Regions from separate parts of the Homo sapiens genome. Here region 1 is linked to region 2. The links come from fine-mapping of genetic effects on gene expression. Tissue or cell type: nasal epithelium. Region 2 holds a variant in brackets; the other region holds the start of a gene. All regions are shown on one strand. Distances are between the middles of the regions.

Region 1 (4,402 bases), 41 kb before region 2:
ATAAAATCGCCTGATTTTGATGGTCAAATATCTTGAATTTAATATGAGAGAAAAAAATACATACTGTTTGTTAGTCCAAACTGCACCATGTTGTAAGCTCCCTGCTATTTTGCAGACCTTGGTGAAAGCGAAACATTTCACAGGGGTTCGAGCTGTGAGAAACATCCCGTCTAACCAACTGACCACGAGTTGGACAAAGGCCTAACTAAAGAGACATCCCTATCATATCTTGCTGGACAAAGGTCCAAGGAACACCCTGAACAACAGAACGACATCGCGCCGGAACAAGAGCCAGAACCGCCTCTTCATGGAAGCATCTTATTAATATCCCGCGGAGCAGCAAGCCATACTGCTCAGACCCCTTCTGCCCGTACCTATAAATGGCCCCAGCCTGTAAGCGGCAGCGGGCTCCGGCATTAGGCTGGTCCTCCACTTCTGTAGGATTTATGCTGGACAGAAAGCCTGAATTTGCTGTTGAGCCGCCCTCTTTCCGTGTGTGTGTGTGTGTGTGTGTGTGTCTTTAACCCTCGCCTTCCCTTCAAAACCTAACACTGTTCAAAGAAGATTTAGTCCATCATTAAGTATTTATTAAGAACGTACAAGTCAAGCCCAGTACTGGGCGCCTAAGACATAAATAGGTCTGTGTTTCAGCAATGATCTTGCAGAAATGAGGTTGGGTGGGTGAGGGGCTTGTTGGGGCTGTGTCTGCACATAATAATTCCTCAAAACAAACACTTTGTTGCTGGCACAGCAGAAAAGCAATCAGGCATTGACAGGTAGAAAATAGCTTTTACAGCATGGGCGATGAGGAGCCCCAAAGCAGCATATAAAGCAAATCCTTCATTTCTCCCATACGTCTTAAGTAGTGAACCGCAAGGATGGTGCAGACTAAGATTGGGTCTACCTATAAGATCTGGAGGGGAAAACGGCAAGACCAGAAGAAACCGTCGCAGACTTATTTGCATAAGCACCCAAACACTGCTTACGTCACTGCGCCGGAGTCCGGACCCCGCCCCGTCTTACTCCAGCCTTTCCCAGCTAGGGAGGAGGATGGAAAGGGAAAGCGGGACGCTGGAGAGCGCGAGCCTGGGGGCTTTGCTTCCTAAAACGCACATCAAAGGCTGCTTCTCAGCTCAGGAAAAATAATTCCCGTTCCCGCAGCCTGTGCCACTGGGTGGGTCATGCCTGTTCCCGAACGCCTCGGGCGTCTTGATTCATTCTTATGTATCCAGTTGGTGCGCTACGTTAGAGTGCAAGGATTTCCCTGTACTCAATACCGTCTTCTTCCCAGTCACACACAGACCAGCCTAGTGAAAGAAAGGTAGAAACGATCTGGGTTTCTAACTGCTTCCCATCTTCTTACAGTCCCAGCAGCACCACCCTCACCGCCACACTCTCAAATTCCAGGATGCGCAGAAACACAGGAGCCGTGATTTCTCCAGCAGCCACGTGCCTTTCGTACGGCGAAAGGCCCCCTTTCGGGCCATTTATCACAGGATACCTCAAGCAAAGGGGAACTGTGGTCACGTGAAAACACTCTGTCCTCGGTAGTCGCCTTCTGCCTTTGCTAAAGCGAACGGAAGCGAATGAGGAATAAAGCTCTCTGCTCTCCCCGCCCCATCGCCCACCTGCACGAGGTTTAGCTTCCAATTCACCTCGCGTCTCTCTCTGCCCCAACCCTCCCAACTTTCCTCTTGGACTTTCCCGTGTTGGACCCCACCCTTCAACCAACCCCGACTTGGCTTGGAAACGAGTAGGTCTCTGGGGATGCTGTGGGCAATTTCCACGACGGGAAGAAAGGATGGCGGCACGTTTCAACCCATGTGCTTCCCCTTACATGTGCAGCCTGTCGCCCCCCACCCTGATTGTACAGAGATGCAGAGTTAGACGGTTGCCCGCCCAGCCCAGCTTCTCCCTCCCAGGGCTTTTGAGCTGCCCTCCCTCCTCCCACCCCAGGACGCAGCGAGTCCTTCCCGGCATCCATCCATCAATTCGTTCCCGGTGCTGGTGCCCAGGCTCCTGGGTGGCTAATGGCGAGCCCCACCTCACCCCCAGTTGTGCCCTTAGCGTAGGCGCTTGCCATTACCGTCAGTGTGTCTTGACCAAGCGCCTCTTGCTGCTTCCACGTCCGGGCAGCAGCAGCAGCAGTCGCGAAAGGGTAGGGTCCAGGTGGCTGTGACGGAGGCCGAAGAGGAGCTGTTGGCAGAGAAGCAGCTTCTTGCCTAGGTTGGGACCCGGAGCTGGGTTTTGGGGGTCGCCGCCCTGCAGGCTGGCAAGGAGAGACTCGTGAGCGCCTGTGTGTCTGCCAGGGAAACAGCACGGGATACAGGCGCGCGGGTGCGGGTGCGCGTGTACATGCGTATGTGTGTGTGCGCGCGCGCGTGTGTGTATGTGTGAGGGTGTGACGGAGGCGCCCACGTGCTCGGCCCGCCCGTGTTACGGCCGCCTACCGGCTGCAGAGGAGAAGGGTAGGCTGTGGGCGGCGGCGGGGCGCGGAGGGGTAGCCAGGAGCGCAGGCTGGGCTCCGCACCTCCCTGCCCCAAAACCCATTGATGCAGCGGCCACTGCGGCTGCCGAGCGGCGTCTTCCCAGAGCCCGGGGCTGTGCCCGCCCGATGCAGGATGCAACTGAGGAAGCCCGCTCCAAAGCAAAACAAAACAAATTCCTCCAGCCATGCCGTCTTTCTCCAACCCACTCAAGCGAAAGAATGGACACCAGTTACCAGCCGCTGACTTTTGTCTCAGTGAGAATAATAATAGGCATGGTGCTACCTGGCACCATCTGAATATTCTCCAAGAGTCAGTAATGGGACTAGAAAAAATGGGTGACCCAAAGAACCCTTTTCCCTACCTATTCCCCCAAGCCGGCCATTTACATCTCTTGCGAAAGAAAAAGCCTCTGGGCATTGGCTTCTCCGTCAGGCGGTGGCCTCATAGCGCTCAGTGATTCTCGCCAGGTTATGAAAGGCCGTTTTAGAAAGCTGGCCCTCACCCACCCTGTGTTGGTGCCTCAGCAGCAGACTTTTTTCCAAGGGGTCTCATTACAAGATGAAGCCTGACTTACCTCTGCTAACAATCAAGGCATGCTCGTAATTAAGCCACGTGGAGAATTCCTAAAATATACACCTCTGAACACAAAGCTTAGCCTCCTTTTGAAAATGGCTGAACCGTCCCCTAAACAGTGCGTATGCTCTAAGGATGAAATTTTCCGTCCTTGAAACGTTCAAAATTTGAAAGAAATACAAAATGAACCTAGAAGCTAGGTAGAAAGGTTCAGTAATTTAGCAAAGTTAATTTTTCACTTCCAGATTATTAATATTACTCTTAAAAACTACTTTTGTGCACTTTTAGGCCTTTTAACAATCCCTTAGATTTTTACGGTTCGTATCCAATTAAGATTGAATTAAATTAAAAAGGCCATTGCAAACAGGTTTTTCATGCAGTGAAAAATCTCTTGGAAAGAAATCACAAGACCTAAATTTCAGGTCAGAACATTGCTACTAATCCTTAGCTTTTAAAACAGCCAAGAGAGTTTTTTCTCAGCCTCTCTTCCAATCCCAACTTTGAAAAATTAAAAGTTAAGAAATTAAATTAGATTTGATTCCCTGATACGCCTCCCCTGCCATGAGTAAATAAATGCTCTTTGATAGATGCGCCACGTGAAAAAATAAAAACAGTCAAAATAAACCTTTTATAGGACTTTTTTTGCTTTTTACTTCACATTTTGGTGACAGGCAAATATTTAATGTTGATATATAAAGAAACTGAAATACAGTACCAACATTATCAATAACAACTGAGAAAATTTTAGGAAAATAAGGAGAGCTGTGTCCACCATGATCAGGATTAGGATTATCTGTGGGAAACAAAGTTATCCATATGCTGGCAGAAATCGTTTACGGTAGTACCAAGAAGTACGAAAATTATTTCTCTCCCACGCTTTTTCACTAGTGTCTGATACCTAATTCCAATACATATGCATAGGTCACAAAATATTTGTAGAGCGATGCCCTCCATAATGACTGATACTAATTTATGTCTCAATGCCAATGAAGAGAAGTAGGAGAAAGCAACTATTGTTTTAAGCTTCCCACTAAGTACCTGGGGCTTAATAATATCTTATTTAATCCTCTCAACTAATTAATGAGGTGATTTTTCCTAATTTAGAGATTAGAGAGAGGTGATACTCAAAAAAAATTGCAAAAAGTCAGAAAACTTGTTCAATGACAGAATGGAGAAATAAATTCAGATATGCTGGCCTCAAACTTCATGTGCTTTTATACTATCCTGTAACCCTTTAACAAATTATCTATTTTAACAGGAGGAAAGGGTGGAATCTCAACACAAGTGGTAGGCAACTTTGAAAACAATAAATAGATGAAGAATGGAGAGACCTCAAAAGG
Region 2 (4,336 bases):
ACTGATCTTGAGCAATGCAGGGAATTCCGGCAAGTACATGAGTGTGAATGCTGTTGCAGGCCTGGGCAGTATGAGCACATGTGAAGTATCTGCCTGTTTGCCTTCCTTCTTTCCTCCCTCCTTTCCTCACTTCCTTTTTTTCTCCCTCCCTTCCTGTCTTCCTTGTCTCCTCCTTCCCTCCCTTTCTTCCTTCTTTCCTTCCTCCCTTCCTCTCTTCTACCCTTTCTTCCCTTCTTCTCTCTCACTCTCTCTTCTTCCTTTCCTTTGTCCATCCTCTCCCTTTCTCCTTTCTTTTCTTCCTACCTTAAGCATTTTGGGGGCAGTAACTAAAAACCATAATGGATGCTAACGTTAAAAATGAAAATAAAGAGTTCCTGTCTTCTAGATCATGGAGTCAGAATGCAATATCTATATATTTTTGATTTTTGATGGAATTTTAAGTGATCCATGCAAAGCAACTTTTTTTCGTATTCCTCTTGGAATTCAGATAATACAGCATTTCTATAAGTAGAAATGTATAAGAAGTATGTTTTGTGGAAGTTGGATTTAAATCTTTGATATATGCCAAGTGATCAAAAATTATATATTGCCCTGAGTGTATTTAGAATATGAAAAATTGGGTATGAAGTAGAAAATAATTTGATTTTTACATGAAATATATAAATTTATTTGAAACTATAAAATACAATTAAACATTGTCTTTCTGACTCTATTGTTATGGTGTGTGATATGCATCTTTAAAAGAATGGTTTTAGCACTTTTTAGAGAACTGTGTGGCTGATGACTTTTCACATGGCTTAAATAATTATCCAATTAAATTTGTGCATATAAAGCCAAATGGAAAAACACTTTGTTTCTAACAGATGAATAATTTGATGAAGAAGGAATAGAGGGATAATGTATAGATAAATTAAAAATTACACACACACAGTGGAAATACTCTCATAAGAGGACAATTTCACCTTAATGTAATAAAAATTAAATGTCAATTAATTTAATGATTCTAAGAAAATAATTATATTATTTAGACTTCTTCAAGACTGTAGAATCTTCTATTTTTTTATATTGGCAACTATGAAATTGCTTTCTTTTTGTAGCCAGAAAGCACAGCTGACAGATAAAAAAAAAATTGTTAATTTCATAACTCCTAAAGACTAAATGGAGACTGGCATTAAGATTTGAGATATTCAATGCTATTTCTGTACAATATGTTTAGCTTGTTGTTTTCTCAATTTGATGTTGGGATATGGCCCAGAGTTTTTCTTTCTATTTTAACTGTGCTCTTGAGATATGCATTTCATAATTTTTGTCTCTATTACAATTGAAAAAAATGTCTACATAAATTACTCTAATTACATAAATTACCTAAATTAACTGAAGACAGTAAAAGGAAAACTTTGCAATTATCCGTTTCACTTAACATAGAATTTGCACAATATTATTTTAACAGATGTCTGCTTTATCCTTTGTTTAGACACAACTGTAAAGCACTTTTTGTGAGATTTCAACTGGGGAATTTTCTATGAAGATGTAAAATAAAAAATATGTTTGATTACAATAAAATAAAATTTATTCAATTATTCTGTGAGGTGCACATAATTAGACATTATAGGTAGTTCTAAAAGTATAAACATCGTTTTTTTCCAAAATTTTATTTATGAGAAAAAACTTTTTTAAGAAAAGGAAAATGAGTGGCTTTTCTATAGAATCTCATAAAGGTTTATTTTATCCACTAATAAGCTGTCTTACAGCAAATTAATACTCTGCTAATAAATGCCTGTGTATAAGACTACCCAGAGAACATAAAATGTTTTTTTAATAAGAATAATAGAATTAAACAAAAGTTAATAGAAATTATTAACGAGAAAGAAATGAGACAAAATATTTTACGTTGATTTTTGTTCAAACATTGATTTGGGTAAACTTATACTGTTAAATAAAGAATTGTTTAAAGCAATGTTACTATATTGGACATTTTGGTTATCTCCATTATCTATGACTTTCCAATACATTAGCCCATTGGTTTGTAGAATTCATCTCAGCTCAGTTAGGTGCTGCGAGTAATCTAAGCTTCTCGTTCTCAACACTGACGGCACATTAGAATGAGCAGGAGAGGTTTTTG[T/G]TTTTTTTTTTAAATCTAATGGTGTTAGGGCCTCACTTCATAGCCTCTGACCAGTATTTTTTATTTCTAGGGTCATTCTAAAGTGCAGCCATTACTGAGAATTATTGGTGGAAACTAATTACAATATTGCGTTTATCTATCCGACGAATATTTTAGAAACCAGGTTTGATTCAAGCGTGGGAATGTAGAATTGTAGATCCTGGTCAGGCAGTGGCATCTGGTGTCTCCTGGCAACATCAGAGAATGCATACCCACAGACAGATGAAACCTATGAGGCACTCTTCATGAGTGATATCTAGTGACTAGTTTGTAATGTGTCCAAGACATATAAAGATAGTCCCCATTGCATTTTAAGAAAATACATCTAAATTTCACATTTTAGATCCAGGTGACATGGGTTATTAGAATCAATTATGGTAACACTTTAAATTAAGTGTATTAGAGCTTCAGGGTGATATGCTAAGGTAGCTCCCTTGCTAAGCCCACTCTTAGGACTTGTCACAATCTGGAAGAACACACAGAATACTATTGCCAACATGACCAGGAAAACTGGAAAATGTCAGTTTTAGACATCCCAGTTGTCTCAGTGCTTTCTCAGTACCCTCCGCTGAAAATATATTGTCTACATTTATCACAGCAAAATATAACTTCTATAGAATTTGTCAGTGTTTATTTTTATCATGTCTCTAACCCATTCGCTTATGGAATTACCACAGCATATGATATAATTCTGTCCACTGACACATGAATGAAAGTTCATTGGGATTCCTAGAATACATTTTCACTGGGACTTCTACAAAAAAATTTCAGACACCTCTTCTAGATGTTGTAATATGGCTTTGAACCTTACAAAATGTTGTATCCTTTCGTTTGTATCAAATGAAAATGAAACTGGTGAAAGGAAGGTGGTGAATTGCAGAGAAGCATGTTGGAGATACTTAGGGCACCTCTGCAGCCTGGTCTACTTCTGGATTTCTAGTTACATGAAGCAGTAACTGCTGCCAAGAGCATGATTGCCGTAAGAGTTAGTACATGTTTACCCAGAAAACAGTATGTTCAGGCCCACCATTTTTATCTAAAATGCTTGGGATCGCAAGTATTTCATAAGCATTTGTATTATTTTAGGAAGGCCGTATACATGTTACATACTGTGAAATAAGCTTAGCAGAGCCTAGGACAGCACTACATTATCAAGAAAAAAAATCTCTGGAACAAAAAAAAGTGTGTGGATGAATGGTTGGCTAGAGAGATGGAAATAGATATACTGATACACAGGTATATACAGGTATTTGTGTACACATGTATACACACACATTCACACTATGTATCATAAAGACTATAAATAGTCTCACTTCAGTTCACTTCACGTCTTGTCTAAATTAGTCATAAGCCACTTTCAGTTTTTGGATTTCAGATTTGTGGACAAGCATTGTGAACCTTTTATACTTATATTACTCTTCTCTTCCTCTCATTCTTTTTTCTCTTTACCCTTTTATGTTAATCTTAGATTATGGCACCAGAGATAAGAAGATAATGTGAACAACAAATATAATTACAATCAGTCCTGTATGACTGATTTTTAAGATTATTTTGTTAATTTTTAAAACTCAATTTCTTCTAATTATATTTGGCAATGATAGGCTATATTAACTCATAATTCGAGCAATTTGAAAAAATTCAATTTAATGCTTATTCATTAAAATGTTCAAGAATCAATAATAATTTAATCATAAGACATAAGTACACATATTAAGATTGTAAAACTAATGGTCATCTAATTCTCTTAGATAATTAGGTTATATACAAAGATTGTCCAGAAATTGCATCTAATTAAAGCATGAATGAAGTAATCATCAGAAGTTCATAAAAGACTTTCCTTCATCATCTTCCTTTTCTCCCTGGTCATATTTCTCACTTTTCATTAGTTCACAAATTAATCATTCCAAGCTATTCAAATTCGGAGAGCAAGAAACTCAGAAGTAGCATAGCCTTAACAAGGGATGCATATGATAACACATTAAATGTATTTCAAAATTTTATTTCCAGGTTTTGCATACCGTGATTTTATATGTTTAGTGTTACAGAAAGGTTTAAAATATCTTAATCAGAATTTAAATGCACCGTGATCCTTGGGTATATGTTTTACATTTCAATCTCTACATTTTTTTCCACTGTAACGTAACTTTGCACATGAGTCATTTGAACTAGTTTATT

What was found. PIP is the estimated chance that this variant, and not a neighbour inherited with it, causes the effect.
Region 1: SLC6A15 starts here. The variant in region 2 is the best candidate, but not a certain one, in a credible set for the expression of SLC6A15 in nasal epithelium (TOPMed, PIP 0.62).

The regions. Positions count from the first base shown.
Region 1 is chr12:84,910,437-84,914,838 of GRCh38, forward strand. SLC6A15 (solute carrier family 6 member 15) reads right to left here and starts at 2,363. Exons shown (of 12, transcript NM_182767.6): 1 at 2,087-2,363. It overlaps LOC102724680 (a long non-coding RNA gene), which reads left to right and starts at 2,401. Exons shown (of 4, transcript XR_945154.3): 1 at 2,401-2,468; 2 at 4,321-4,402. RefSeq lists enhancers at 933-1,481, 2,030-2,577, 2,578-3,124.
Region 2 is chr12:84,951,143-84,955,478 of GRCh38, forward strand. The region is part of intron 2 of LOC102724680 (a long non-coding RNA gene); the gene reads left to right. Among named protein-coding and RNA genes, the nearest start is that of SLC6A15, 41 kb to the left of the region's middle. The variant T/G (reference allele first, on the strand shown) is at 2,123.